Homo sapiens: one gene and its partners. The protein of the gene in region 3 interacts with the protein of the main gene of each other region in a biochemical or structural test. Each region holds a gene or a part of one and is shown on either strand. Other genes may lie near its edges. The genes, in order: CBX3, TRIM28 and ZNF10.

Region 1 (11,099 bases), on a different chromosome or scaffold from region 3:
GATCTAAGCTCCAGGAATTCAAGAATTTGAATGAATGGTTTGGCTCAATCCTTCCATAATACACCGTGGTAGACAGGAGAGATGGAAAGAGGAAGAGAGGAAGGGCGAGAAAGATGATGCAAGATGCTCCACTGCTTGCTGATTCTGAAGATGGAAAGGGCCAGGAACCAAAGAATATACGTGGCCTTTTGAAATGGAAGAGAGAAGGAAAGATTCTGCCATCAAAGCCTCCAGAAGGAATTCCCCTGATAACCTGACTTCAGCTTGCTTAATTTTGGACTTCTGACCTACAGAACTATTTTCAGCCATAAATGGGTTAAATTTGTGGTAATTTGTTAAAGCACCAATAAGAAACTAATACAAACACTAGAGAATATAAAAAAACAATATTTTTCAAATTTTTTGAGAAACAGTCTGTCATCCAGGCTGGAGCACAGTGGTATTGACATAGAGCTCACTGTAACCTTAAACTCCTAGGCTTAAGGGACCTTCCCAAGTAGCAAGGACTACAGGTGCAAGCCACCACACCCAGCTAATTTTAAAATTTCTTGTAGAGGTGGGGGTCTCACTGTTGCCCGGGCTGATCTCAAACTTCTGGGATTCAAGTAATCTTCCTGCGTTGGCCTCCCCAAATTTTGGGATTACAGGTGTGTGCCACCATGCATGGCCAAAGGACAATATATTGTTTTCAGAAATGCCCTTAGTAAAATTGAATGTAGGGCCACCAACTACTAATATGAATAGAAGGTTCTCTATCATCTGTGAACCCACCGCTGAGAGCAGTGGTGGGTATATATATATATATATAAGGAGGTACTTAATAAACATCAGTTATTTACCTTTTTCTGTATGGATTTTGGAAATCAATTAAAATGTGTCTATCATCACACTGAGCCCTATCAGAATACTTTACATTCTTTAGAAGACAGTTACAACAAACCAGAATTTAAAACCTCATTTTAATGAGACAATTGACCCTAGGCATCACATGAAACTTTTATTTCCCAACTGTGGAAACATTCCTGTGGAAATACATATTCAAGTTTAAAACTCGTAAGCTCAAAAGATCTAGGATATGTACTGTAATGCCTTACTGGTATCATCTAACTTATAAACAAAGATAATCCAATGAGTGTGGGCATTTCTATTTCTACTGTAAAGGCATATCAAATAAAGAAAAAAGTCTAATAATTGCATAAAGGAATATAAAACTATTTATTAACCACTGTTCACCAGTATTTACAATAAAGTAAACAATATACAGTTGGATAACATTTTGATTACTACAAAGTTGTTCTTCCTGGCTTTTGCTGAACCAGTAAAGCAAACTCAAGATTGAGCCTCCATGTAATGAATTGGGGTAAAGAAAAAACATGCAGGTCAATAGGTTAGGTTACAAAAGGTTGTTCACACATTTATGACAGCAGGTCCTAAACTGCCAACACCTCTAACCATCTGATTAGGTTTCTATGAGCCAAGTCTTACATATTCCATTCATCATGACCTTTTAGTCAATGTAGCAACAGGGATTCCAACATTTTGCTAAGGAATGGCCCGCTAGGGAAACTTTTAAATGTTCATTTAACTTAGTTTTGTTTAGCTAGTTAAAACACACTAGCATTTGTCTAGTTTCCTCATCTGGATGAGGAAACCTGCTGTGATGGCAGTGATAAAATTTTTCCTTTTAGGAATTTTGCAAATAAACCACTGCAATTATAGACACTTTAAAATTATCCAATTTAAATTGTCCTATCTAGAATTACTTATTTCACTTGAAATGTATGGTTTCAGGAAAATTTTCAATTTAACTTGAAGGGATTATCTCTTATTTTGCTTGGAATAATGGCATCTCAGAAACATGGGTTTACCTGTGATTTTTTTGTTTGGGTGAATGCTTAAAAACAAAAAAAAATTTACATATGCATTTTATGGATACACACACACACACACACACACACACACACAAAAAACACGTAATAAATCTAGAATGGTCCTTAGGCTCATGAGAACACAAGTTTTGACTGAGTAATGACTATGGACATTTCCCCCAACATTTAGAAAAGCTGTTCTTTAATGAAGAGGAAATGATATACCATGGTATCAAATGTTCTTTTCTGATAAAGGAAGCAACTACAGAAAGCTTTTATTTATTTGTTCAAAGTAACCAGTGCTATGGATGCAAAAAACCCCCAACAACTCTTCCAACGCTACTTTCAAAACAAACATATCAAACTTGATTTTCATTAGGATGTAGTTATTTTGTCACACTAGTAAATCAAAATCTAAGACCCAATTTTTATATATATATATAAATATATATAAAAGAACAATGTGAACAATTATTGAGCTTCATCTTCTGGACAAGAATGCCAAGTTAGTCTCTCTTCATAAAAAGCAATTACAATTTGAGGACACTTCATATTTGCCTCTTTCGCCAGCACCAAGTCTGCCTCATCTGAATCTTTCCTGTTTTAAGAAAAAGAAAAATTCAGTTACAAGTCGAAGTTGTTCATGTCAACCGACAGCCATTCATTTAAGAAATAATAGTCCAAACAAAAGGTATTGAAGTGCTCCAGGAGAGTTATGTTACTTGTTGCTATGTTCTAATAAACTTCATTTTCAAAACAGGCCACAGTTTGCTGACCCTTGCTTTAAAACACTACTAGTAAAAGTAACCAGAATCATCCTCTCAGCAGATAGTTTTTCCCTACCTAATGATGAAAAACCATTTCACAAATTAAAAAAAAAAAGCTACTCTTACTTTCAAATGTAACAATCTCTGCATACTCACCATTTCATGAGAAACATCAATTCTCCACTGCTGTCTGTGGCACCAATTATTCTTTCAGGATCAAGACCTCTGGCAAATCCTCTTGGTTTGTCAGCCTGTTTAGAAGACATTTTTTCATACAGCAAACTCAGAGTATTAAATTGTTTTCATGGCGTATTTTAAATAAAAACATTCCAATAGTGAGATGGAAATGACTAGAGCAAGAACCCATATTTGGTAATTAAAAACATCTGATTTCCATTAACTTTACAAGCAGAAAAACCTGAGTTTGATACTCAACGTAGAATACTTAAAATTTCTGAAAACATTCAGAATAAAAAGTCAAGAAAATTACTGCGTTCAATGACACCAAAGTCAGAGTTGTGTGGGCATACAGAAAAACTAACCTCTTTATTTCTGGTAATAATAAAGTCTTGAAAGTTAATATATTTCAAATGACTTCCAGGAATTAGTCTGAATTACTGACACATTTTAAAAGCATAAACAAAACACAAACGGTAAGAAATATTAAAAATGTTAAAACTCATACCAACTATCTGTAATCATTCTAAATGATAGTAAATGTTAGAACAAACTTGTGTAACCTGTGGCCCAGGATGGCTTTGGAGGCCCAACACAAATTTGTAAACTTTCTTAAAACATTGAAACTTTCTTGCGATTTTTTTTTTTTTTTTTTTTAGCTCATCAGCTATGGTTGGTATTAAGTCTATTTTATGTGTAGCCCTCGACAATTCTCCTAATGTGGCCCAGGGCTGCCAAAAGATTGGACCCCCTGCGCTAGAAAGTACTTAATATAAACCAGTGGCTCTCAAAATGTGGTCTACGGATTCACTGGGGATTCCAGAGTCCTTTTTGGGAGGGGGTTGTGTAAGGCCCCCTTTTTTCATCTATTTGTGACTTTGGATTGTCTTCATATACCTCCACCAAAATGATCCGCCACAGCAATCAAATGTGTTTAAGTAAAATTGCCTTAAGACACATGTTGAATATCTGTAAAAATGTAAAATGCTACTCTTCTCAGCTTTTTTAGAAAAGTCATTTTAGAAATTTGTTTTAATTTCTACTGTTAGTATTGATAATTATAACCCATATAAACAAAAGCTCTCTGGGGATCCTCAATAATTTTTTTAGAGTATAAAGAGGCCCTGAGACCAAAAAAAGTTTGAGAACCAATGATATCAATAAATCCTTTATTCCTGTCAGAGTTTTACATCAATGTCACAAGCTCTGGAGTCACACTGCCTGGGTGAGAATGATGGACCTACCCCACTTACGAGCTGTGTGGCTTTGGGCAAGTTAATTAACCTCTTTGTGGTTTAGGTTAATAAAACAGAATTTTAGTATCTACTGCACAGATATTTCACAGCACATTAAAAGCAAATAATTTGGCACACAGTATAGCACATGCTAAGGACTCAATAAGTGTTGTTAAAGTTGTGCCTGATTTATTATTTAATAATTTTTTGAGACAAGGTCTTGCTCCGTTGCCTAGGCCAAAGTGCACTGGCATGATCACAGCTCACTGCACCTTGAACTCCCAGGCTCAAGCAATCCTTCTGCCTCAGCCTCCCAAGTAGCTGAGACTACAGGAGGTGTCCACCACGTCTTGCTGATTCTTTTTTTTTTCTTTGTAGAGATGGGGTCTCACTATGTTGCCCAAACTGGCCTCCAACTCCTGGGCTCAAGCGATGTTCCTGCTTTGGTTTCCCAAGGTGCTGGGATTATAGGTGCGAGCCACCGTGCCTGGCCAAAACTGCTTCTGTTGAGCATGTGATTTATTTTCAAAACCAAATTTGTAGTCAATCTCGTTTCCTCATCTGTAAAATAGTGATTATACCTATGACCTTATACAGAGTTGTCTTGAAGGTTGTACTTGGCTTCTAGTTCAAATGATCAAGTTTTAAATCATGTTTAGTGCCTGAGCCTAGAACCTAATTCAGCACCAAGATGTTTCCCCAAATTGCCACACTAGGTCAGTAGGCAAGACAAGTATAATCTGTTTTACAATCAAGGGTGTAAGTAAGAAGTTACCTGATTTGCCTGACGCCACAGAGACATAAGTAAAGCAAAGACTGGACCAAAACACATGTATAGTGAATGAACTGAATGTCTCAATTCATGCCAAGAAAAGTGTTTAACTATTATCAAAGATTACAGACTTCAAAATCAAGGTATTGTTTGGCAATACAAAGATGACATGCAAGTACTTTTCGGTGGTCAATGCCATTGATGGACTATAATCAGAAAGTTCTATTTGCGTTGTTCTTACTGTAGTGCAAAGGCTTTCGATAATCCAATCTTAGTATTGTTTGTATTTAAGATTGCTAGCCTTGGATCACAGGTAATTGGTCTGATCAGGGATCAAATCCATGAAACTAAGAAAAATTGCACTAGCACAACCTAAGTGGCATGAGCACTTACTGCACATTTACACAAAGTAGGCTAAACCACGCCCATCCTTATTGTCCTAAGTATTAAAATATTTAAAATACGATTAAGAGGCCTTTTATAAAAGTATCTGAATTTTAAAAAAGCAAGTCGTCAAAGGTGGGCTTGGTGTGGTGGTTCACGCCTGTAATCCCAGCACTCTGGGAGGCCGAGGCGGGTGGATCACCTGATGTCAGGAGTTTGAGATCAGTCTGGCCAACATGGTGAAACCCCGTCTCTACTAAATATACAAAAACCAGCTGGGTGTGGTGGTACACGCTTGTAATCCCAGCTACTCTGGAGGCGGAGGTTGCAGTGAGCCGAAACTGCACCACTACACTCCAGCCTGGGTGACAGAGGGAGACTCTGTCTCCCAGGAAAAAAAAAAAAAAAAAAAAAAAAAAAAAAAAAAGGCCAGGCGTGGTGGCTCATGCCTACAATCCCAACACTTTGGGAGGCCGAGGCGGGAGGATCATGAGGTCAGGAGTTCAAGACCAGCCTGGCCAACATGGCAAAACCCCATCTCTACTAAAAGTACCAAAATTAGCTGGGCGTGGTGGTGGGCACCTATAATCCCAGCTACTTGGGAGGCTCAGGCAGGAGAATCGCTTGAACCCAGGAGGCGGCAGTTGCAGTGACCAAGATCATGCCATTGCACTCCAGCCTGGGCGACAAGAGCAAGACTCCATCTCAAAAAAACAAACAAACAAAAAAGAAATCAAGCCATCAACCTTTTACAAAAGGACAAGCTGGTGGGCAATATTTTATACTTACAGCATCTCTTTTCTTCTTTGATTTGCTGTCATCAGATTCACTGTCAGATAAAGATTTTCTTTTTGTACCATCTTTTTCTTTGCCAGCTTTCTGAGAGTTAAGAAACGCTTCAATCAATTCTGGACAATCTAAATTTTCTTCAGGTTCCCAAGTATTGTCAGCACTGTGTTTAGTTTATTAAAAAAAAAAAAGGTGATTGAATTAAATATGATTCATCACCATTATCCAGATCTATTTTAATAGACACCCGGGGGAATAAAAAGTCCTCTGTACTGCAGATACTAATCATTTCCTCCTTCCCTACATTACCCCACCCCCCAGCCTGCCTCCGCCAGAGACAGGGTCTTGCTTTGTTGCCCAGACGAGAGTGCAGTAGTGGAATCATAGCTCACTGAAGATTCCAACTCCCGACTCAAGCGATCCTCCACCTCAGCCCAAGTAGCTGGGACTACAGGCATGCACCACCATGCCCAGCTAACTTAAAACACACACTTTTTTTTTTTTTTTAATAGAGAAGGGGTCTCATTTTGTTGGCCAGGCTGGTCTTGAATTCCTGGTGTCAAGTGATCCTCCAGCCTTGGACCCCCAAAGTGCTGGAATTACAGGTGTGAGCCACTGCACCCAGGCCCTATATTCTAATTTGCTACCCTGAGACTCCAAATTAGTAAACCCAAATTACTGGGTAGAGGACAATAAAAGTCTCTGCTCTGTAGTATTATTTTCATTAAAGTCTTCTTTGGCCTGGCACGGTGGCTCACACCTGTAATCCCAGCACTTTGGGAGGCCAAGGCAGGTGGATCACTTGAGGTCAGGAGTTTGGGATCAGCCTGACCAACATGGTGAAACCCGGTCTCTGCTAAAATACAAAAATTAGCCGGGCATAGTGGCAGGCGCCTGTAGTCCCAGCTACTCAGGAGGCTGAGGCAGGAAAATCGCCTCAACTCGGAAGGCAGAGGTTGCAGTGAGCTGAGATCACGCCACTGCACTCCAGCCTGGGCAACAGGGTGAGACTCCATCTCAAAACAAAACAAAAAAAAGTCTTTTACATTACCTGTTACACTGCACATGGGAAGTACGCTATAATCATGCTAGTGGCCTTAAGTTTTGGGAGAAGAGGGAGGAGCCCATTCATTTCCTAATGTTTTGATGGGTAAAAATAATTTTTCATGTTTCATGGGCTTAATAAAGAAGGGACTTACGACACATACTTAATTTAAACTAAGAATACTGAAGGATAAAACAGGCAAACGTAAATCTCCCATTCAATTCATAATTCCCAAACTGCTATGAATTAAATGTGAAGAGCAGGGGAAGTAGGAGATAACAGATAGGTGAAGCCCAATCATTCGACTATCATATGCTCCATCTCCAGCGTGCTCAGGAAATTGATCTCCACCTATCCATTTTTAATTGTCACTGCCTATGGAGCTTTGTGGTGTAAGGGGGAAGAATCAAAGCAGATAAGCACAACAAACCCCAAGCGTTAAAGTATGTAATTGTTGCATGTTCAAGTTATTCACATTTTGTGAATAACATTATCAAGAATAATGAGAGCAATCCATATCAAAGAACACAAGGAACCAGAGAGCTTAAAACATGCCCAGGTTCTACTTCTTAGGTATAAGGATATAATAAACCTAGTATAAAGCCTAGATTATATGTAATCCTGTATGAGACCCACTAGTCTATATTGTAAAGCTTCAATGTTTTTAGCACCCTCTGTGTGGAGGAAAATAATGCAGATTATTCTAATTAGTGTAATATCTAACCACATTAAAATATATTACATAGTAAACTACACTCCATAATTTTATAAATTTGACTCCCCAGGGTAATAAACTAGTCTCTAGTCTGCTCACCTTCAACTGTACAATAAAGTCTTGGTTCTTTTGAAATAGACCTCAAATGAGACACCTAAAATTCAAAGTGTCTTTACATTTAAAGACACCTACAGGAAAGCAGGTAAAAGAGCCAGGTTAAAAACAAATTCTAAAACCACTTAGCTGCAGTTAAACATATAGTAAAGATGCACTAAAGTTTCTTACTCTGTAAATCCCTTCCACTTCAGGAAATATTCCACTTTCCCATTCACTACACGTCGATCTAGTACTTTTTCCACGACAAATTCTTCAGGCTCTGCCTCTTCAACTTTTTTACTCTTTCCATTCTGTTTTTTTCCCATTTTTTGCTAAAATAAAACAAAAGAGAAATTAAGAAATATTCCTCTTGAATTTTGAGCACATTTTCAAGGCTCAATTGCTTATATTATTATCACATTCGACATAAATTTTTACTTCTATATCCCAGGGCAGACACCTTCTGGAAAGATTAAAAGTCAACAGACAATAAAATAAAAGAATGCTTTATCTTGTTCATTTAGTTCAAACTTACAACCCACCACCAAAATAATACAATAAAAAAACACTATCTGGAAACAGTTATTTTTTTCCAGTCTTTTTTTTTGAGACAGGGTCTCACACTCTTGTCGCCCAGGCTGGAGTGCAGTGGCGTGATCTCAGCTCACTGCAACCTCCGCCTCCCCAGGTTCAAGCAGTTCTCATGCCTCAGCCTCCAGAGTAGCTGGGATTATAGGCGGATGCCACCATGCCGGGCTAATTTTTTTTGTGTTTTTATTAGAAACAGGGTTTCACCATGTTGACCAGGCTGGTCTCAAACTCCTGACCTGAAGTGATTCACCAGCCTGGGCCTCCCAAAGTGCTGGCATTACAGGCGTGAGCCACTGCGCCCGGCCCTGTAGTCTTAAAAGACCAAGTTTACTAATTTTCACTCATTTTAACAACACTGCAACAAACAACTATGCAGGAAGTACCTAAAGGGTGATACAGAGAAGCAAGTAGTAGTGACAGGTCTTAGGTGAACCTATGACAGACCTTGTATCCACCCCCAGATGGTAAAAGCCCCAGCCCCCTTCTCAATTCAAATATTAATGTCAAAAGCATCAATGATACAGAGAAAAGATAAATGCAGAATGAAAACATGGTTCAAAATCCTGATACCAACTGCAGGGTCAACTATAGAGACCACTAGGAGGTTCAATTAAAGGACAAGATTATTTTTCCATAATCTCTGTAGATAATATTTCCTACCACTTAGAACAAAACTATAAAGCTATCACTTCAAGAGACCAACATTACAAATTTATTTTAATTCCCTAAGGTGAAAAAAATCCTTCCTTCCTGGTTTCTCAAGAGAAAGTCTATACTGGTAACCAAATTCACTTTAAACAGGCATTTTCTTTGGTATGACACTATTTAAGAGAAGCAGGAAACCAACGTGAACCAGCTCTTTCCAATGGCTCAAGATTTCCTATGAGAGGACTAAAAATGGGGAAAATTTTTATGAGAGGATTAAAAATGGGGGAAAAAAAACCCTGAAATGGTTAATCAGAAGATCCTATGGGCTGAGAAGGAATCCATCTTAACATTTCATCTTAAAGCAAATGCTATTGCCGGGGGCAGTGGCTCATGCCTGTAATCCCAGCACTTTGGGAGGCCGAGGTGGGCAGATCATCTGAGGTCAGGAGTTTGAGACCAGCCTGACCAACATGGAGAAACCCCGTTTCTACTAAAAATACAAAATTAGCCAGGCATAGTGGTGCATGCCTGTAATCCCAGCTACTTGGGAGGCTGAGGCAGGAGAACTGCTTGAACCCAGGAGGCTTAAGTTGCGGTGAGCCAAGATCACGCCATTGCACTCTAGCCTGGACAACAAGAGAAAAACTCTGTCTCAAAAAAACACAAAAACAAAAAACCCAAATACTATTTAAAAAAGATAAACCTTAATTGCTCAATCATTAAAGCCATCCCACAAGTAAAGCAGCAAGCAGAAAAAAGTTAAGAACACCTCAAGGCTACAGAAGGACATTTCAAGCTATGCAGGCATATGAAGTGTGCAGACAGATATGTAAGAAAGGCCTCAAGACTGCAAAAGGGCATTTCAAGCTATGCAAGCATATAGGTAACACATACACACACACAAAATAAAAATCCCCTGAAATACAAAAACATGCAGCAAACACCTGACGTTTTTGGATACCATTTCTAAGTCAGGTGTTATGATTCTCATTAGTCAAGATACTTGAGTACTGGGCCCAAACAGCTTTCTGCCACTGTACAGTACAAGAAGGTAGGAATAATGGTGGGAGGAGCAAAGACAAACTGTAATAGACAGAAGTGTATCAGATACCTATACTACATGAAAAACAAAACAGCTACTGCCACAAAGGGAGAAGGCTAACAAAATAAAGTCAACAATAAATACAGAAAATGAAAAGGATACACACTAAGGTTTACAAAAAAAAAAAGGCAGACAAAATGCCATACAGTATTCATTCACTACTATGGCATTCATAAGCTAGTTTCAAATGCTCACTATTTTCTTTTATAGTATATATTTGCCTTAACCCAGCACTTTTTTCCAAAAGTGGATGAGTCAAAATAAATTTCCCATTATTTAAGTGAAATTAACAGCACACATATCTCACAACACTAATGAATTTTTAAAATGGAAAGTTAAGAACTTTTAAAGTGGCCAACCTGTGATCCTTCACAAAATAAACTAAATACAATAACAGACCCCAAAGGCTATCAATTGCGTGCAAAAACAACTTCTGTTTTCCAGGGTAAACAGAATCTAATGCAGAATCTAATGCAGGGTAAACAGACTTAATGCAGAATCTAATGATGGCACAAATTAAAAATCACTAACGTGCCCTTTTTAGTGTGAAACCCAGAGAGAGCACATACAAGCCAAAAACAAATGCTTTATTTTACCTAGGAGACATTAACATTCACCTTTACGTGTTTAAGATTAATGCAATGTTAAATATTGTGAAAACTGTAACTTTGAATTTCATGATTTTTATGTGAATATTCCAGGGTTTAAAAAAACTTGTAACATGACATGGCTGAATAAGATAAAAAAAAAATCTAGCCTTTTCTCCCTTCTGGCTCATATTTGCGATTTCGATCATTTTGTTTAAAAAACAAAACACTGCAATGAATTAAACTTAATATTCTTCTATGTTTTAGAGTAAGTTAAAACAAGATAAAGTGACCAAAGTAATTTGAAAGATTCAATGACTTTT
Region 2 (8,251 bases), on a different chromosome or scaffold from region 3:
TGGCCTTGGGATTCACACAGGCTCGACTGTAGAGTAACTAAATCATAACACAGAGATGAATGATAATGTTAAGTGGACTCAGCAAAGGGAGACAGGGAAAAAAACCACATCTGGAAGGTCTCAGTTCACTGTGGGACCTTCTGAAGATGAGAAACAGCTACAGCACCAAAATTTAGGAAGCATTCAGTAGAGTGGCTGTGCTACACCTGGGGCTAACCCTGCCTACACAGGGATGTAGGTCACACCTACCCAGTATCCCACAGGGTACCCAACAAGCCTCTAGTGTGTACATCCTTTGCCCTGGGTGACCCTCCCCATACCCAGAAAGGGCAAGGAGGCAGTCTTCCCCACTCCCTAGGCATCCATACACATGGGCTTCGATAGGTGGGGGACAAGACCCCCCTCCCTTGTGCCACCAGTGCTTGATAAGGCTGACTAGTAGATACAGTCAATAAACCAGGCCCCAGGACCACAGTCCCCCAACCAGCCAACGCCTGAGGAACTGGTGAAGTTTTTATTAAATCCACAGAAGTAAAAACCATATCGTGAGGAACTGGGGGATGGGGCCACCAGGGAGTGGGAGTCAGGCCACCAGGGGAGTGGGGATGGGGTGACAGGACAGAGAACAGAGCCAGGCTGGGCTGGCCATGGGGGCTCCAGCCTCAGGGGCCATCACCAGGGCCACCAGACAGCTCCTGGGAACTCAGGCCAGCACCAGGCAGGCTCATCGGCGGGGGCTCCACCAGCACAGCAGAGAACTTGGTGTCACCGAAGGCCTCGTTCATGCGCGTCTCGAAGAAGCGCTGCAGGCCGATGATGGACTGCACGTCTGCCTTGTCCTGGGCCAAGCAGGAATGCAGTGGATGAATGGGTCCTAGTTCTTTCCTTCACATCTCCCCCTGCCCACAGCCTCTCCATTCCACTGGCTCACCTCAGTTAACTTGTTGAATTGCTTGAACATGCGGCCCACATCCTGGGCAAACTCCTGTGGGGAGCTGTAGGGAGGTGACAACTTCTCCTGGAGGCGGGCACGGATCAGGGTCAGATCCAGGGTGCCACCGGGCTGGTCCTGCAGGCAGAGATCACACATACACACACAAAGACACACATATACATGCACAGGTTGAGGGCGAGACCCAGCAGCCACCACCCCCTTCCCCTTTCCCATCCTAGGACTCACCAGGGAGAAGGTGGAGTCGGTAGCCAGCTGATGCAGGGGGCGGCAGGGTTCGTGACAGAATAGGGCCAGCAGTACACGCTCACATTTCTACAAACATTGTAAGGGATGTCACAGCTCTGGGCAGCACCTATAAAGCCTCTCTGGGCAACCCCACCTAAGTAACCCCAGCCCTCACCCGCTGGTTGGCTGGTGAGAGCTTGGCCACCACGCCAGTGCTGTCTGCACCATCCAGGCTGAGGCTGCCATCCTCCTCCTTCAGGTCAGGGAGCACATGGCAGAGTGAGCAGCTCCACTCCTCCCTAGGGTGAAGAAAATAAGGGTCTGCACATGATCCTGTCCAGACAGCCCAACACCCAGACTTGACCCCCACCAGCCTCACACTCACCCTGGTACATCCTGCAGGGCCGGCAGGTGACAGTCCAGGTGGAAACAAAACTCACACTGGTTGCACATAACCAGATCGCCTGGCTTCTGGCAGACACGGCAAATGGTGGCACTGTCATCCAGGGTTCCCGGGCCACCACCTGGGGCTGAGGTACCCTCAGGAGCCACCACCTCCAGCCCTGAGCTGGTGCTGCCACTAGGTGAGGCCAGGCGGGGACCCTCAGCACCAGGACCCTCCGCAAGAGCCATAAGCACAGGTTTGGTCTCAGGGCCCTCAGTGGCAGTAGGAGGGGCTCCAATGGCAGCCTCCGTCTCCTCCTCCTGCAAGGTGGTGATGAGGGGTGTTCAACAGGGTCCAGACCTGGACTACAGGCTTCATCCTACAGCTATAGTTCCTTGGGACAGGCTTACCTTGACAATGGCCATGCCAGCCAGGGGTGGGGCACCAGGGGTTCCTGCAGGCGCAGTCCCTGGCTGGCCGGTAGCTGCAGCGGCAGCGCCACGTTCAATAACAATAAGGTTGTAGTCCTCAGTGGTACTGCCTGGGAAGACCTTGAAGACGGGTGGCTGGCTGTCAGCTGTGAGGTCCAGGTCCAGGCGTTCAAGGCTCACTCGTGGCACCTTGCGCATAAGGCCGCTCACCTCGCCCTCACCTGAGCGGGACCTGTAGATGCAGCAACCTGGCATGAGTACACCCCCACCCTCCATCCACCTCACCCCCAGGGGAGGTGCCATACTTACCGTTTCACACCTGACACATGGGGCTCTGCACTTGAGTAGGGATCATCTCCTTAGAAAATGGAGAAAGAAGACTGGCAGGTTGGGGTAGAAACAGCACTGGGGCCCTTCCCCACCCACTAGGCAGACCCACTCACCTGACCCAAAGCCATAGCCTTCCTGCACCTCCATGGGCTGTGAACAAAGCAGAACCCTCTGCCTCAGTGGGACAGGAACCCTACTGGACCCCATTCCCTGCCCACCCCCCCTGCCTGGGTCCTCTCTCCTGCTACTGGACCCCATTCCCTGCCCACCCCTTCCTGGGTCCTCTCTCCTGCTCACCTGGCTGCTGCCAGAGCCCTGCTTGCTCAGGGGCCCTGGGGCTCTTGGAGGGGCCATGGGTGCAGGGCCTGTTGAGTTAGTGCCAGGACGCTCTGCCACAATCTTGCCTGCAAAAAGAAGAGAGAAACGTAAGTAGGTGCAGCACGTGGGGTAATAACAGAGTGAGGTAAAGCTGGGGACCCACCAAAGGCCTCGGCACTCTTGGTCCAGGCATTGAGGTCCCACTGAAACTTCATCTCGCCATGTGGCTCCACGGGATCCACAATCATCTTGAGGGCCCGGTGCAGCTGGAAGTAGATCTGGTTGGGAGTGAAAGGGAGGAAAGAATGAGCACACCAACAACAAATAGGGATTTGAGGTATTGGGAACCACCTGCCTGGAACCCACCAGCCAGGAGCCCACCAGTACACACCAACTTCTTAGAAAGCAAAAGGGCTGTGTTGTTGTCACTCTCCAGAGCCCAAGAGGCAAAGCGCAGAATGTGCTCCTGGTGCTTCTGGATCTTGGTCATGGTCCAGTGCTGCCGCTCCAGGCGCTCCTGCTGCCCCTCAGTCACCTTCTGCAGATAGAAGGTGTATGAGGTAAGCAGAGAAGGCAGAAGAATACTAGGATCACTCCTCACCCCAGACAGCATCATCAATCAGCAGAGGGGGCTCAGGGACCCTTCTCACCGGCACAAGGCTTACCTGGGCATCATTGACCAGCACACGGCCCCGCTTATTCAGCTCCTTCATGATCTGCAGGATGGCCATCTTGACATCCACTTGCACACGCTTCTGTACGTCAGACACCTGGCGGATTCTAGGGGACACAGCAGGTCAGGCTAGGTAGGGTCTTGCTGCCCTGGGCCACCCCCACAGCCCCAGAACCCACACTTACGAGCTGCGAACCTCCTTGGTGCTCTTCTGCAATGTTGCATGTTTGTCCCCAAGGCGCTTCACCAGTGAGGCCAGGAGCTTGCGCTGGTTCCTCACTGCATCCTCTAAGAACTGGTACCTGAGAGCAGACAGATGTGTTCCTGAGCACTAAGCTACGGAAGGGGTGGCACCCACCCACCCAACCACTATGCCTTGGGACTCACTGGTGGTCCTTGTGGGCATTGAGCTGGCAGTCTCGGCAGGTGAGAGTATCACAGCTCTCACAAAACAGCACAAGGGGTTCATGCTTGTGTACGTTGCAATAGACAGTACGTTCACCATCCCGAGACTTGGCTGGCCCTGGGGAGTGGGAATCATAAGGCTGGACCTTGCCCTTCACCACCCCCAACTCAGGAAGCAGAATGAGTTGGGGCCTCATTTCCGGCCTGTTCTGTGACACTGGGCCATTTATTGGGAAGATGTAGAGGGTGTGGCCAGGGAAGAACACAGGCCTGCAAGCCCAACTCCTTGCTCCCAGAATCCTCTGCCCCAACATAGCTGAGAAACACATCCCTTTCTTCTAGCTTCTAGAGATAACAACAATGTAAGGGTAAGGATAACAGCGTCTAGAAAAAGAGGACCACCCCACCCCACCCCCCACCCCCGCTGACCCTTCCCCACACTGTTCCCTTTACTGAACACTTCTCCAAGTGGACATACTCAGAATTCTGCCTACACACCACCCTGGATTCCTTTTCTTCTCCTTTCATGGTTAACTTCCTCCCTCTTCCCTGACAAGAGAACACCAGGGTCTCTTACAATCCAAGGGCCCAGAGGAAACCTTGTAGAGGTTCTCATACTGGGAGAGATGAAATGTCAAACCAGGACCCTCAGAATGGTGGTCACACCCCCTCTAGAGCAGAATCTTGGTGCTCAGCATAATCCCACCCAAAGACCAACCCATTAATAACCTCCAAAGCCTGTCTCCCCATTAGAAAACTGATCAAACACACTGGTCCCACATACCAACCAAATCCAAAATATGTAGCATCAGGGCTCATTGGGGAAACTGACTTCCCCAATGCCACTCATTCCTGCACCCTGACCTTTGCCTGGGACGTCTGGAATGTAGGACACCCTGCAGCCCCTGCGTATCCCTCCTGGCTGCTCAGGCCCCACAGCCACCACCTTCCCGCTATCTTCCACCAATGCTGTCCTCTGGGATGGGAAGAATCACAGTATGGCTACCAAAAGGCCACTCATGGGAGGATTCTGGCCCCAAAACTTGGCTAGACTCAAAAGACTCTCAAGCTCCTTCCAAACCAAAGCTAGCTGTGTCTGTGAAAAGCTGGAAATGCCAAACCAAACTTTGGGTAAGTCTCTGCCAACTCAAAAGCTAAAACACTTCCAAAAATCATCATCACTTATAATCCATGGACCCACAGTCTACTTTCCCTAGCAGCATCTTATACCAGATGTGTGCCAGGGAACCACAAACCCAGAAAGCCCTTCACACCATGCCTTTCCCTGTTTGCATATGCTGAGCCCTTCACCACCAGGTCTGACAACTCCCTGATAAGCCTTCTCAAACCCTTTGTACCTCCCTGCAGCACATTAAGGTCTCCCTTATTTCCCCTTCCCACCCTCTCCCACCTAGGCCCTAGAGACTACACACCACAACCCCAGTTTTTCTGCTTCTGGAGTTCTGCCCTCGGGCCCTTCGGGCGGCACCCCCTAGAGAACTCTAGGACCCATCCACCAGATGCAACCAACATCATAAAAGCAACTGAGGGCACACATGGGAGAACAACTCCAACAGCCCCCCTCAGCCTCATGTACCAGTAGAGCGCACAGTATGGTCCTTGGTGTACTTCACCCGCTGGTGCGCCTCTACACAGGTCTCACACAGAGGCTCCGAGCACTCCACACAGTAGCTGGTGGCTGGGGCATTATCCTCACAGCTAGTGCAGCACTGCCAGACAAAGGCAGGGTCAGAGAAGGCAAGACAACTTGATAGATCCACGTTTACATCCCAGAAAATACAACCGGAGATTTAAGATTGGTCCCTTGACCCAACCTAGGCAGCCCACCCAGAGCCTTGGGAAAGTGGAGTAACAGCCTGGAGCTGGTGCCAAGCTCCTCCTGCGCAGATGCCCCCTCCCCAGAAACCTCCTTGTGGTTGCTGAGATAGGACGCACCTGGTTCGCATCCTGGGCGTCGGTGGCAGCCTTGCTGCCACTATCACGCATGAAATAATTCTCCACGATGTCTTTGGAGAAGCACTGTTGCTTGCACACGGGACAGTCCACCACTTCGAGAAGCAGGGATGTGGGAGACTGTTACAAGTTCCCACCCAGGTTATGGCCCCCACCATTCCCCTGCTGGGTGGGCCCCCGACCATTATCCCGCAGCGAACCAGCCCCTCCCCTCCCCGAGCCTTCTTTTCTCCAACTTTAGTCAGATGTCCCATCTCAGCGGCCAGCACAAACCCACGTTCGTATGCAGGACCCAGAAAGTATTTCCCGTGCCCTGTCCGGGCCCCCATCCTCTCGCCCAGGTGGCATCCTCATCTCTGCACCCAGTCGGAATCAAAGGCAGAGAGTAGGGGGAGGGGTGGCACCGATCACTTCGTACTTACCGGTGCCGTCGCCCGCCGCCCCGCCGTCCCCCGAGCTGTTGGCGGCGGCGGGGGCCGCGGGCCCTAAGCAGGCACTACAGGCCGAGTGCAAACAGGGCAGCAGGCGGGGCTCCCTCTCGGGTCGCAGGCGCTCTCTGCACACGCCGCAGTGCTCCAGCAGCTCCAGCGCCTCGGCGCCGCCCCCCGCGGGCGACGACGCCGCGGCTGAGGCAGAGGCCGAGGCTGCGGCCGAAGGGGCGGTGGAGCGCTTTTCGCCGCCAGCGGAGCCCTCGCCCGGGCCCGGGCTGCCAGAGGCGGCCGAGGCCGCTGCTGCCGAGGCTGCCGCCGCGGAGGCCGCCATTCACACGCCGCCGGGGGCGCCCAGGGGGGGAGGAGGGGCGCGGGGCCCGCCGCGCAGGCGCAGACGCGCTCGCCGCCAACTGCTGGGCCGCTGCCGCCGCCGCCGCCGCGAGGCCGAGCGCCGCCACGCGCCTCCTGGGCCGCTGCCCGCCGCGCGCGGGACGCTGCTACGGCACGGCCAACTGCTGCCTGCTCGCCTCCCGAAGGCGCCGCCCGCGCTTCTTCCTCAGCCGCCGCCGAAACCCGCACCACGCGCCACAAGCACAAGCACAACCGCTCGCCCGCGCGCCCGCTCGCAGAAAGAGCCGAGGCCGGGGGGCGGGACAGAAATAACTGGCGCCGACGCCGCCGCGCACGCGCATTGGGCGCCTCACGCCCGGGGGCGGGGCCCAGGCCGGTCGGTGCGGGAGAGGCCGCCAGTACGCACGCGCCAACTCCTAGTCCTTCCACCACCGCCAACCCCACGTCGGTGGGGCTCTTGTGGGGGCGGGGCGGGGCCTCTGTGACGTCACTGCCGCAATTGAATCCGCCAGTGGGGTATGCGAACCTTTATAGAGTGTGATTCCCCTCTCAGCTCCACCTCCAGACCACACAGAAGCGGGCCGCTGTGCGCCCAAGCGCATGGGCAATCCGTCCCTCTTCCTCAACCCGCGTCTCTTCGCCGCCGTAGAGTCGTCTCCAGCCTCTGCGTCACTAAGAGTTCGGGATAGGGGGCAGGGCCGATGGAGAAGTAGGCGGGGCCAAGACCGAGTGAAGGGCTGTGTCCAGGGAGAGGGGAGGAGAGTCTCCATCCCAAGAGGGAGGAAGCTCCTGTGTGAGCTCGGGTGCTGACTTTTGGATTTTAACCACGCTATAGTTAAACTTGAGAAACACAGAAACTTGACTGAATCAAATGTAGATCACAGCCGGGCGCCGTGGCTCATACCTGTAATCCCACCACTTTCTTAGGCGAGTCGGGAAGCTCCGTTTAGCCCAGGAGGCCGAGGCAGCAGTGAGGCGGGATTGTGCCACTGCACGCCAGCCTAGACCACAGATGGAGAAAAATGTGGCCGGGCGCGGCGGCTCACGCCTGTAATTCCAGCACTTTGGGAGGTCGAGGCGGTTGGATCTTAAGTCAGGAGTTCGAGAGCAGCCTGGCCAACGTGGTGAAACCCCGTCTCTACTAAAAGTACAAAAAGTAGCCGGGCGTGGTGGCAGGCGCCTGTAATCCCAGCTACTCGGGAGGCTGAGGCAGGAGAATCGCTTGAACCCGGGAGGCGGAGGTTGCAGTGAGCCGAGATCGTGCCATTGCACTACAGCCTGGGAGAAAAGAGTGAAACTCCATCTCAAAAGAGGAGAGAAAGGTTTTTGTGTTTGTTTTGAGACGGAGTTTTGCTCTGTTGCCCAGGCTGGAGTGCAGTGGCACGATCTCGGCTCGCTGCAACCTCCGCCTCCCGGGTTCAAGCGATTCTTCTGCCTCAGCCTCCCGAGTAGCTGGGATTACAGGGGCCTGCCATCACGCCTGGCTAATTTTTGTATTTTTAATAGAGACGGGGTTTCACCACGTTGGCCAGGCTGGTCTCGAACTCCCGACGTCAGATGATAGACCCACTTTGGCCTCCCAAAGTGCTGGAATTACAGGTGTGAGCCACCACGCCGGGCCCCCCAACCCCCCATCAAGAAAAAAAATATATATATATATATACACATATATATAAATCACAAGAGGCTAAAGAGCAATGAGTCTGTGAAATCCCACCCAGCCCCCCAAGGCATCCCCTCCCCATGTTTTCGTCAGCAGCTACCCTGACTTTG
Region 3 (11,907 bases):
GAAGCAATTAATAGACAAGGGAGTTGGAACTAGAGGAGAGAGAAGGGGGGAAGGATGGGGTCAAATCTCTGATGAAGGCATCAGGCTTCTAAAGGAAGAAGGATGCTTCATTCTCTCCTACCTCCTGGAAGTCAGGATAGGTGGGATGTTGACAATTAGCAGGCAGTTCAATAGAAATGTGAGTCAAAAAAGAAAGCAAGGCTATTTGCTAACAATGAGAGGAACAACAGATGGCCATGATCATTGAGGACAGTGATAAAGGTTTGGGCCATGCAGTGACAAACTAGCAAAAGCTGCTGACAAAAGATAAGCTGAGGTTACGGAGAGTATGTCTGTCATACTTGTCTGCCTAGCTGTGATTTCCTCAAGCAGCACTCGCTGCCTGAACAGAAGAAAAGGCAAACTGTGCAGTGTTCTGGGCTGGGATTTCTATGTGTGCAGGTAATGCAGAGCAAGAGAAGTAAGAATGCCTCATGTGAGAAATGTGTGCAATCAACAACAGGATCTAGTTTTGGTATAGACATGAGTCAAGGAAGGAGCTGACAGATTTGAGGAGAACCTCCAAGAAGAGTCGTGAGAATAAGGACATAAAAAGAGCCAGGAGAACAAGGGGTAAGAGTCAGAAAGAGGGATACCGAAGTTTGCAGAGGCTGTGCTGTTTGGGTCATGAGTGGAAGTCTGAGACACACAGGAGTGATGACATGAGCAGAGTGAAGTGAAGAGCCTCCAGAGATGAGAAGGCAAGGTAGGCTCAGCTCATATAACGAAGTCCTGGAACACTGCGATGCCACAGAGGAAAGCTGTTTCAAATCCTCTGCCTGATGATGTCCAGCATTATTTATTTCCTGTTTTGGCTGCAGCAGCATAATGGATCTTGGTATTCAGGGAGCATTGAGTGCCCTTTCCCCAGCTCACAGTGCAGAGTTTGGAGCCCAACTTACTATTTGGTCACTGCTGTGTAAGAACAAAAGATGAGAGGTAGTCTGGATGCTCTGAGATCCAATAATCTTCCCAGTAAGACAAGGCAGACCCATGAAAGGCAAAAGACAATTCTATATGCGCACACTAAGATCAAAAGGCATTTCAGGTAGCTATCAAGAGTGACTGAGCGTCCCCTACCTGAGAAGCTCTTTTTAAGATGTTAGGAACACAACTATGAGAATAATTTCCCTCCCTCAAGCAGATTGTAACCATGGAAGGATGTTAAAAGTCTAGTACCACAGACATGAAGAGAATGGAGAAAGGAAATGTGGCTGGGGAAATCTGCAAAACTTCCTGGGGAAGGAAAAACTGGAACAACGATGAGAAAAGGTCCAATGTTAGGAGTTAGAAAGCACAGCAACAGCCATTCCACAATGTGAGCTTTACATTTGCAAAGAGATTTTTCTTCCCACCTCCAAATGGTAAAATCTCCTAGAAGACTATATAATTCTATTTGTGAACATAAATGTTACAATAAAGTCTATATTTTCTACCAGAGTGGTCACAAAAAATATTTATAATCACTCCATTTTTCTTCTGAGGCAAAGTCAAAACATAGTGCCAGAGAAAGGGAGACTATTTTTATTTTGGTAAACTCTTAAGGACAGAGGGCTATATTAGTTTTCCATTGCTGCCAATTATCAAAACTTTGTGGTTTTCAACAACACACATTTGTTACATAACAATTCTGGAGGTCAGAAGTCTGATACAGGTTTCGGAGGGCTAAAATTAAGGTGTTGGCAGAGCTGTGTTCCTTCTGGAGGCTCTAGAGAAGAATCTATTTCCTTGCCCCCGTCCAGTGTCTAGGACCATCTACACTCCTTGGCTCCTGACCCTTCCTCCACCTGCAAGGCCAGCAATGATACATTTCTCTGTGCCTTTCTTTCATGGTTATATTTCCCTGATTGCTAACCTTCTTATCCCCCTTTTACTTTTTTTTTTTGAGAGGGAGTCTTGCTCTGTTGCCCAGGCTGGAGTGCAGTGAAGCAATCTCGGCTCATTGCAACCGCCGCCTCTTGGGTTCAAGTGATTCTCCTGCCACAGCCTCCCATATAGCTGGGATTACAGGCGCCCACCACCACACTCAGCTAATTTTTTTTTTTTTTTTTTTGTATTTTTAGTAGCGACAGGGTTTCACCAAGTTGGCCAGGCTGGTCTCGAACTCCTGACCTCAGGTGATCTCCCCACCTTGGCCTCCCAAAGTGCTGGGATTACAGGCGTGAGCCACCGTGCCCGGCCACCCAGCTCTTTTACTTTTAAGGACCCCTGTTATTACACTAAGCCCACTGAAATAATCCAGGATAATCTCTCCCCATCTTGAGATCCTTCATTGAATCACAACTGCAAATTTTATTTTGCAGTATAAGGTAAAATATTCCCAGGTGCTGGGGATATCTCTGGGGAGCCATTATTTTGGCTGCCACAAGGGCAGAGATGGGCTGAAAAGAAGCTCCAAGTATCGGCAAGAAGGCTATGAAAGTTACTATTTGAGGCACACGCAGTTCCAAAGCACAGCTCCAATCAAACACTTAGCGTACAAGTTTCACAACAACGTTCTGGACCCTTTTCAACTTAACTCCCACTACACTTGCCCCATATTCTCTAAGGATCACTTTAATGCCATCTATGCTGTGACGCCTTCCCACTATCTCAGAGAGGATCAGTGGTTCTATCATCCGTAAACATGAAGGACTCTGCCCATGCCCTATTCCAGCACTTCAACGCTGCCTTACGGTACCAAGATTTGTCTGTCTCCCTTATGAGATAGTGAACCACTTAAGAATTAGGACAATCTCATTCTAAATCCTGGGAAGAGGCTAGCAAAGTGCTTAGCACTTCATATTCATTCACTCTGACATGTGACTATACTTAACCAGCACTCACATTGACAGGTACAACCTCGTCAGGAACCGCATTTCACTTGGGGACATGGAGTACATGTTCATTAATAAAGAGAACAGGGTCTCTTCAAGTTCTGAATAGGTTTACCAGTATTTGCTTCAGCAAAGGGCAAGGTATGATCAGCAAAAAGGACCCAGCAGCCACAAAGTTAAAACTCGGTAACCAATAGACATGGCAAAGATATACTTAAAGATACAAAAGGCAAAGATCCTGCATCTGTCAAAACTCAGCAAATGTACACTTAAGATTTGCGCTTTTCATGTTATGTAAATTTTACATCTAAAGAAAAATCTAAACAAATATAGAATTCTAATTAATAATACATACGTATTCTGAAATTTTTAAGGAATACGTACCCATGTCAATTTACTTTGAAAAAAATTTAAAAATACAATGAACTGATGGATAAAAAGAGGGACAGATGGGTATGTGTTAAAATTAGGTACAGTAAAATATTAATGGTAGAGTCTAGATGGGAAGGTTTATAAGTATTCACTGTAAACTTCTTTTAATTTAGCTGTATGCTCAAAATTCTTCATAATAAAATTTTGAACAGGAAATGTTAGGATCAGTCAGCAAGGAGATATTGTGTGGAAAGAGGAAAAAATAATGCTCTTGGATGTTCATTACGAGTCAAAGAGGCACATACACAGACAAAGGTGGCCTATATCATATCTTGTCCCAACCTTGCTTCATAGCCAGAAGAATTAAAAGCCCTGGCTGACATGAGACATGCTAGAAAGAGTACTGCTGATGAAAGTAAAAGAGTCTCTTGTAGGCACAACAGAGATATTAACAATAAGAAATTTCTTTTTCCTTAAAATACTTTTTTTTTGAGACGGAGTTTCGCTCTTGTTGCTCTTGTTAATTTAAGATGTGTATCTCAAATCTCTGCCCTTGTGACTGGCATATGTTAATTAGCTGGGCATGGTGGCTGGCGCCTGTAATCCCAGCTACTAGGGAGGTTGAGGCAGGAGAATTGCTTGAACCCAGGAGGCAGAGGTTGCAGTGAGCCAAGATCGAGCCATTGCACTCCAGCATGGGCAACAAGAACAAAACTCTATCTCAAAAAAAAAAAAAAAAATTCTCAGATTTTCTTGACAATTGAATATAATCTATAAACAGAACTGTTTTTATTCTTACTCATCCTTTATTCTTCTAGTAAGAATTGCCTAGTAAGGTTTTGAAGTTTTTCTCATATAGTTCACATATATTTCTAGCTAAAATTATTTTCTTCCTATTGTGAAGACTTTTTAAAAATAAAAGTATGTGCTAACTTGTTGAGGACGGCAATCAATCTATTAGCTTATATATTTCCTTTTCAGTCACTTTACTACAAATTATTGATAGTAATTGAATCTCTTCTCATTTTGGGGACTTAATTAGTTAATTAATTAACAAGGATAATTTTGTAATCTCTTTTCCAGAAGGTAAGCCTCATATCTACTTAAATATTGTCCTAAGTAGAATTTCCAGACAGTGCTTATATAAAATACTGATAAGCAGAAATTCTCATTTAATTTATGATGTGTATCTCAAATCTCTGCCCTTGTGACTAGCATATACTAAGAGCTAAAGAAATGCATGCTGAGAGAAGTAATCAAAAAACAAATGTAACTTTCAAAAAGAGGCAGGAGCGTGTGCAACTTACCATCCAAGAGGCTTTGGAAGATGGGGGACAATTTTAGTAAAACAGAAGAGATTAGTTATGTCACAAGAGAAAAGTTAGTGTGGAGGTAATTTTCAAAAGGGTAGGGAGGATTTGTGCTATCCAGTTCTCGGAGACCTAACTGCAGTCATTTCTAACCTAATAACACTTGTTGGCTGGCATTCTGGGTGACATCCTGCCTTCCCTTTTACTTTTTTTTTTTTAATTAACAGTATCTTTCTGCAATTAATGTATAGCTGGAATTGAAATTGTTCACCTTCTGCATACACTTTGGGTGGGATCTACGTACGAAATCTTGATGTTAACCTTATCTTTGACACTCATATTATGTGTTAGATGGCGTATATATATCTAGTGTCAAGGGAAAATAAAAATATAGTAATTAAACTTATGATCTGTCTCTGAAAATAAAAAAAATAGATTAACCACACAAACACGCCTTCAGTTAATCTATCTGATTAAAAAACAAAACAAAGATGAGGAAGCTAAGAGCTAGAGATGCAGGATTTGTTTTTAAAAGACCACACACGAATCGGCGTCACTATTTCAACAAATACTAGAAAGGCCATATGCAAAATTTTAAACATCTATCCCAGCTGGGGGGAAAAATGGAAGTTAGACTAGAAGAAACCTTATTTTGTATTACTGAAAATATCTGGTTCAAACTTACCACCACCGCCGCCCACTCTGCGTCAATCTCCAGGTGCAGCCGTTATTCTCCACAGAACAAGAACGTCCGCCGTGAACGCCGGGGCCGCGCGAGGGACAGAAAGTGACTGAGGCAAGGGGTGACGATCACCGTTAAATTTTTTCATTGACGAAATTACCGTCTACCTAGAAATACGAAGCTAATACACTGCTACATTACTAAAGGGCTCAACACGCGCCTGATGACGATGCAAACACAAAATTCAGCACTTTCGTATATACCTGCAATAAGCAACTAGAAGGTTCGATGGGAGAAAGCGATCCCGTCACAAAGGCAGCAGCAACAGCAAAACAGAGAACGCGACTCCATTCACCAGCGGAGCGCGAAGAGCGGCGTCAGAGGTGAGTCTGAGGCCGGCTCGGCACGGCGGCGCCACCTCCCCGTGGCCTGACGTCACGCACGCGCACGCGCCCCGCCCCCATTGGTCCTACGCCCGCCCCTGCTGCGAACGCACGCACACGCACCCACAACACACACCGTTACGCACGCGCCCCAGCCTGGCGTTCAGGCCACGCTCCGCCCCCAGCCCGTCAGCCGCGCGCCCCGGGACCCTAGAGCCGGCGATTCGTCGCCGGCGCCGCAGCCGCCACTCTGTGCCGGACCCTGCGGGCCTTCGGCCCAGAGCGCGTCCGTGACGCACAGACCAGGCCCCTCTGCGGGGCGGCGCAGGAGCTCCTGGGAAACGTAGTTCGGCCTCGCGTCCCCCTCGGGCGGGACCGCGGACGCCTGGAGGCAGGCACTGAGGACGGGTGAGCATGCGGGCCTGTGGCTCGTTCACCCGGGACAAGTCCCTCGTGGGATCAGCCTGGCCCGCTGAGTTCTCCTGCGTGCAGGGATCGCCTCACGGGAGTCTGAGCAGCAGGGAGCCTGCCCGGGAGGCGGCGGTGGGAGAGGCCCTTGAGGGAGGAGGGGCTACTTACCGGGTGCGAGTGGAGCGCGGGGAGCGAGTGGGGACCAGGGGCGCGCGGGGCGGAGGGGTCCCGGGCTGGCTGCGGGTGCCACGCAGGGAGCGCTGGGGGGCCGGGGATGCGCGTTTGCCTCCTTCTCTAAGCAACACGGGAGGGCTAAAGGGTGCACGCCTCTGTCCAGCAGCCTCTCTTGAATCTCTAAACCTAGTAATGAGTTGAATCACAGCCATCGTTTTTTTCACCTATTGCCTTATACTGTGGTTGAATGCGATATGGTTTTATTTCTTTAATACTCTGGTGTATTCAATTGGCTGTTTCCCTTTGACTTCACCTATGCTCACAAGATTGTGTTTTAATCTTTTTGTGTACTATCCTTGCCCGTTATACTAACAAGATTTTACAAGCTTCATGAATAATTTGGACAGCACAGTCTCTCTTCTATTCTGTAAAACAGGTCACCACCCCTCACCGCCCCCCGCCCGCCTCCAAAAGTTTGGTGCTATTTGGTCTTAAAATATTTAGTACGCATTTAACTTCTGACTCAATTTTTTTTTTTTTTTTTTTTGAGACAGAGTTTCGCTCTTTGTTGCCCAGGCTGGAGTGCAATGGCGCCATCTTGGCTCACAGCAACCTCCGCCTCCCGGGTTCAAGTGATTCTTCTGCCTCAGTCTTGTGAGTTGCCGGGATTACAGACATGAGCCACCACGCCCAGCTAATTCTGTATTTTTAGTGGAGATGGGGTTTCTCCATGTTGGTCAGGCTGGTCTGGAACTCCCGACCTCAGGTGATCAGCCTGCCTCGGCCTCCCAAAGCGCTGAGATTACAAGCGTGAGCCACCGCACCCGGCCCTGACTCAATTTTTTAAAAAGTCTCATTGATTAGGTTTTTTAGTTCGTATTCTGTTTTAGATACCTTTCCTAGATAATTGTTTTTAATCTAATTTTTCAAATTTATTGGCATAAAATTGCCCATGCTATTTTATCACTGTAAGTAATTTCTATGGTGATTTTTAAAATCACCACTTTTTAATATTTTACTGCTGTAATTGTTATTTTTTTCTTTTTTGAACCTAATTATCTAGGCCTTTTTTTCTTGATTACTCCTATAAGGTATATGTGTACATAGTCTTTTCAAAAATGTAGATTTGGTTTTGGTTTTTTTGTTGTTTTGTTTTGGTCTTTTTTGGGGAGGGGGGTCCTATTACAGTAAGTTTTGCTCTTAATTTTTAAATTTTTCTTTTACTTTGTCTCTGTTTTTCTACTTTTTTTTTTTTTTCGAGACAGAGTTTCACTCTGTCTCCAGGCTGGAGTGCAGTGGCGTGATCTCGGCTCACTGTAGCCTCTACCACCCGGATTCAAGCGATTCTCCTGCCTCAGGCCCCACCACGCCCGGCTAATCCAGCTAATTTTTGTTTTTGTTTGTTTGTTTGTTTTTGAGACAGAGTCTCTCTCTCTCGCCCAGGCGGGAATGCAATGGCAGGATCTCTGCTCACTGCAACTTCCACATCCCGGGTTCAAGCCATTCTCCTGCCTCAGCCTCTGGAATAGCTGGGATCACAGGCGCACACTGCCATGCCCGGTTAATTTTTTGTATTTTTTAGTAGAGACGGGGTTTCACGGTGTTGCCCAGGCTGGTCTCGAACTCTTCAGCTCAGGCAATCCGCCCGCCTTGGCCTCCCAAAGTGCTAGGATTACAGGCGTGAGCCACCGTGCCTGGCCATCTGCTTCTTGATTTGACTGGGTAATTAATTTACTACTCTTTATTTGTGCTCCAAGAAATGTGTGTGTACATTTTTAAGAGCTGAATATGTTAAAAGACTCATAATAAAAACAGGAAACACCTTAACCCCATCTCTTCCCAGTGGCAACCACTTGGAAATATTTAAGCAGTTCTGGCTTCGAACTCCTCTCAGTATTTTTTTATTCACCGATTTGTGACATTATTTTAAAATTTTTATCATGTTAAATAAGAACTTTGGCTGCCTTCTTTCTACATCCTTAAATCACAATGTAATTATTTTACAAATATTATAATGTAGTTCTCCCACAAATTTTGGATAAATATGTTCAGTGTTTTCATTTGATGACTACTCTTTAGTACTGAGCCATAATATGTTTCTTTCTTGTGCAAGGTTTACCTTTCTTGTTTTTAATGACTGCCTTTTTTATTCATTTGCTTAGTTTTTCTTAAATCTATGTAAAATGTCTTTTGGTTCCATTTTCCTCAAGGGCTAATCTGTCATACAGTCTTATCACTTTTCTCCTTTCCTGGACATCCCCCTGCAATGTAGATTGATCAGTTACTCTGTAGGCATGCAGCACGCTGGCATACCACTGGGCTTCCCTTTTGCCCTCATCAATTTCCTCATCTCACCTCTGTGTTAAATCTCCTGTTTCCTGTAAAGCACTTCTATTCCTGTTTGGTGGATTGTAATCTTAACTGCCTTGAAGAAAGGGTCCATATGATCTACATATATTAAAGTTGTAGAAATGATTAGAAATTACTTTTTCCTCACATTTGTGTGGTGTTTTCACCGAGTATACACATCTCAATAGGAAATTACTTTCCATTAGAATTTTGAAAGCCAGTGAAGCTAGATAGGAAATGGAGCAGTGTTACTGTTACTGTTGAGAAGTCCTATTTCATACCTTGTTCTTTTATGTGTAATCTGTTTATCATCTCTTGGAGCTCTTTGGTATTCAAAAATTTCATGATGATGTGTGTTCTAATTATTTAAAGAAATTACTTGCTTTGATGGATCAGTTCTTAGATACTGTGTTTTTTTAAGGAATAAGAAGTTTCTGGCCGGGCACCGTGGCTCACGCCTGTAATCCCAACATTTTGGGAGGCCGAGGTGGGTGGATCATGAGGTCAGGAGTTCAAGACCAGGCTGGCCAAGATGGTGAAACCCCATCTCTACTACTAAAAATAAGAAAATTAGCCGGGCGTGGTGGCCGGCGCCTGTAATCCCAGCTACTTCGGAGGCTGAGGCAGAGAATTGCTTAAACCCGGGAGGCAGAGGTTTCAGTGAGCCGAGATTGTGCCACTGCACTCCAGCTTGGGCGACTCCGTCTCAAAAAAAAAAAAAAAAAAAAAAAGTTTTCCTGTACTTGTTTGTTTCTTCCTCTTGTTTTTTCTTTCTGGAACTCTGAGTAATCTGGGGTACCTTAAATTGCTCATATAGTGGTCTTTTTTTATTTATTCTTACTTTTTCTTTTAGATCAGCTTTACTTATTTATTCATTTATTTATTGAAACAGAGTCTCACTGTGTTGCCCAGGCTGGAGTGCAGTGGCACATCTCGGCTCACTGCAGCCTCCACCTCTTGGGTTCAAGCATTTCTCCTGCTTCAGCCTCCCGAGTAGCTGGGATTACAGGTGTGCACCAACACATCTAGCTTTTTTTTTTTTTTGTATTTTTATTTGAGACGGGGTTTCACTGTGTTGGCCAGGCTGGTCTTAGAATTCTGACCTGAAGTGATTCGCCTACCTCGGCTCCCAAAGTGCTGGATTACAGGCGTAAGCCACTGTGTTCAGCCAAGATCAGCTTTCTAGAAAAGTTCCTTAAGTTTATCTTTTTTTTTTTTTTTTTTTTTGAGACGGAGTCTCGCTTTGTTGCCCAGGCTGGAGTGCAGTGGTACGACCTCGGCTCACTGCAAGCTCCACCTTCCAGGTTCATGCCATTCTCCTGCCTCACACTCCCGTGTAGCTGGGACTACAGGCACCCACCACCACGCCCGGCTAATTTTTTATATTTTTAGTAGAGATGGGGTTTCACAGTAGCCAGGATGGTCTCGATCTCCTGACCTCATGATCCACCCGCCTCAGTACTGGGATTTCAGGCATGAGCCTCCGTGCCCGGCCCTAAGTTTATCTTTTAACCCTTGTACCTTTTTGGGGAGTTTTTAAATTATAATTTTTAACTTCCTGGGAAATTAAAAAAAATCCATAGAGTTGTATTCTTATTTCATAGAGGAAATATCTCTCTGATTATTTTTCAAATTATGAAGTTTTCAAACACATACACAAATATAGTAGTACAGTGTACCAATCATCCTATTTTATTTTTTCCTGATGAGAAGATGTACATATTTAGAATTAGCCAGCTGGACTCAGTTTAGATTATTCAGTTTTGTTGGCAACATCCAGAGCATGGGAACCAGGAGCCAGTCAAACATATGCCTTCTTCTCTCCATCAGGCCTGATCAAGGTGTTGACCTTGGCCACATCAGTGTCATAGAGCTTCTTCACAAGCCTGTGAGGAGGGCATGTTGACCTGGTGCTTGTTGGCTTTAAGATCCACAGTGAGCACAAGTGTGTTACCTTCTATCCTCTTCATGGCAGACTCAGTAGGAATTTGATGATAGCATGGTGGTCAATCTTGTTTCTCCTGAGGGTGCTCTTCTGAAGATACGTGGGCTGCCTCCAGAGCCTCAGTGTCTTGGGCTGCTAGAAGATGGGTGACATGCGGATCTTCTTTTTTTTTGTTGCTGTGAATACCTTTCACCACTGCCTTTTTGACCTTCAAAGCCTTTGCTTTGGCTTTAGCCATAGGAGAGACAGGAGTTTCCTTCTTCGCCATCAGTGCCATCTTGTGAAAAAGGCCCCATTGTTCTATTTTGAAGCAAATCTTGGACATTATATATTATTTGCAAATATTTCAGAATGCATCTCTGAATGATAAGTACTCCTTTTTAAGTAGGATAGTCTCACACCTGCAAAATTTGTAATTCCTTTATATCAAATTTATAGGCAAAAGCCAAGGGATGGGGTGGGGAGGGTATGCCTGTAGTCCCAGCCATTCAGGAGGCCAGAGGCTAAGGTGGAGGATCACTTAAGCCAGGATTTCAAGGTTAGCCTGGCCAATATAGTGACACCCTGTCTCTAAAAAATAAGTAACTAATGTATAGGCAGTGTTCAGATTTTTCCGTTTTCTCGTGAATTTTTAAAATTCATTTCTTTGACTCATGGTCCAGATAATGTTTATACAATTTGAAGTCTGTATGGTTTTTCCATAGAAAAATTATGTCTCCATATTGTTTTAATTCCAATATCCCTTGCTGTGTGCTCTTTTGAATATGCTGTTGTTGCTTTGAAGTTTGTTGTTTTCTGTTTCTTACATTGTTTCCTCTGAATTCCTTCTTTGCTTTTGTTTTACTCCTACACCCCTCTGCTTTCTTCTGAGTTCAGCTTACATCCTTTTAGTAGTTCCTTCAGGAACTATCTTGAGTGGTTAACACACACACCCATATAGAACACCCATATAAAACAACAACAACCTAGAATTCAATCGTATGCTAAAGACTGAGAGCAATATAAAAGGCCTTTTATATTGCTCTCAGTCTTTAGCATACGATTGAATTCTAGGTTGTTGTTGTTTTCCTTTAGTACTTTGAAGATATTATTTTATTGCCTTTTTGGCCTCTATCTTTGCAACTGAGAAGTCTGTAGTCAGTATAATTGATATTCCCTTGTAGATAATTAGCCTTTTTTCTTCGGTAACTTTAAAGTTTTACACATTATTCTTGATATTCTAGTTTACCTTCAGTGTAGCTGGTAGCTGATGTATTTTTAAAATGTATTCTACATGGCACATGGTATATAGGCTTTCAGATCAAGGACTTATATATCCTTCTTTCATCTTGGAGTAAAAACAATCATTCATTATATCTCACATTGCTTCTTTTCTGTTCCCTTTTTTCTCCTCTTCTGGAATTCCTGTTCAACACATATGCATATC

Evidence for each region.
Region 1: the proteins of ZNF10 (region 3) and CBX3 form a complex in vitro, tested with the Homo sapiens proteins (one study listed by BioGRID).
Region 2: the proteins of ZNF10 (region 3) and TRIM28 form a complex in vitro, tested with the Homo sapiens proteins (6 studies listed by BioGRID).

The regions. Positions count from the first base shown.
Region 1 is NC_000007.14:26,203,449-26,214,547, reverse strand, and holds the end of CBX3 (chromobox protein homolog 3), read right to left. Parts: intron 8,181-11,099; coding exon 8,038-8,180; intron 6,156-8,037; coding exon 5,993-6,155; intron 2,887-5,992; coding exon 2,792-2,886; intron 2,467-2,791; coding exon 2,340-2,466; 3' UTR 941-2,339; downstream 1-940.
Region 2 is NC_000019.10:58,542,965-58,551,215, reverse strand, and holds TRIM28 (transcription intermediary factor 1-beta), read right to left. Parts: upstream 7,153-8,251; 5' UTR 6,459-7,152; coding exon 6,119-6,458; intron 5,792-6,118; coding exon 5,679-5,791; intron 5,453-5,678; coding exon 5,320-5,452; intron 3,841-5,319; coding exon 3,705-3,840; intron 3,620-3,704; coding exon 3,503-3,619; intron 3,425-3,502; coding exon 3,310-3,424; intron 3,183-3,309; coding exon 3,036-3,182; intron 2,923-3,035; coding exon 2,808-2,922; intron 2,731-2,807; coding exon 2,624-2,730; intron 2,477-2,623; coding exon 2,440-2,476; intron 2,355-2,439; coding exon 2,306-2,354; intron 2,229-2,305; coding exon 1,976-2,228; intron 1,886-1,975; coding exon 1,566-1,885; intron 1,480-1,565; coding exon 1,356-1,479; intron 1,268-1,355; coding exon 1,181-1,267; intron 1,070-1,180; coding exon 932-1,069; exon of another isoform or gene 840-931; coding exon 663-839; 3' UTR 501-662; downstream 1-500. UniProt on the Homo sapiens protein: Nuclear corepressor for KRAB domain-containing zinc finger proteins (KRAB-ZFPs).
Region 3 is NC_000012.12:133,124,330-133,136,236, reverse strand, and holds the start of ZNF10 (zinc finger protein 10), read right to left. Parts: upstream 5,611-11,907; 5' UTR 5,483-5,610; intron 1-5,482. UniProt on the Homo sapiens protein: May be involved in transcriptional regulation.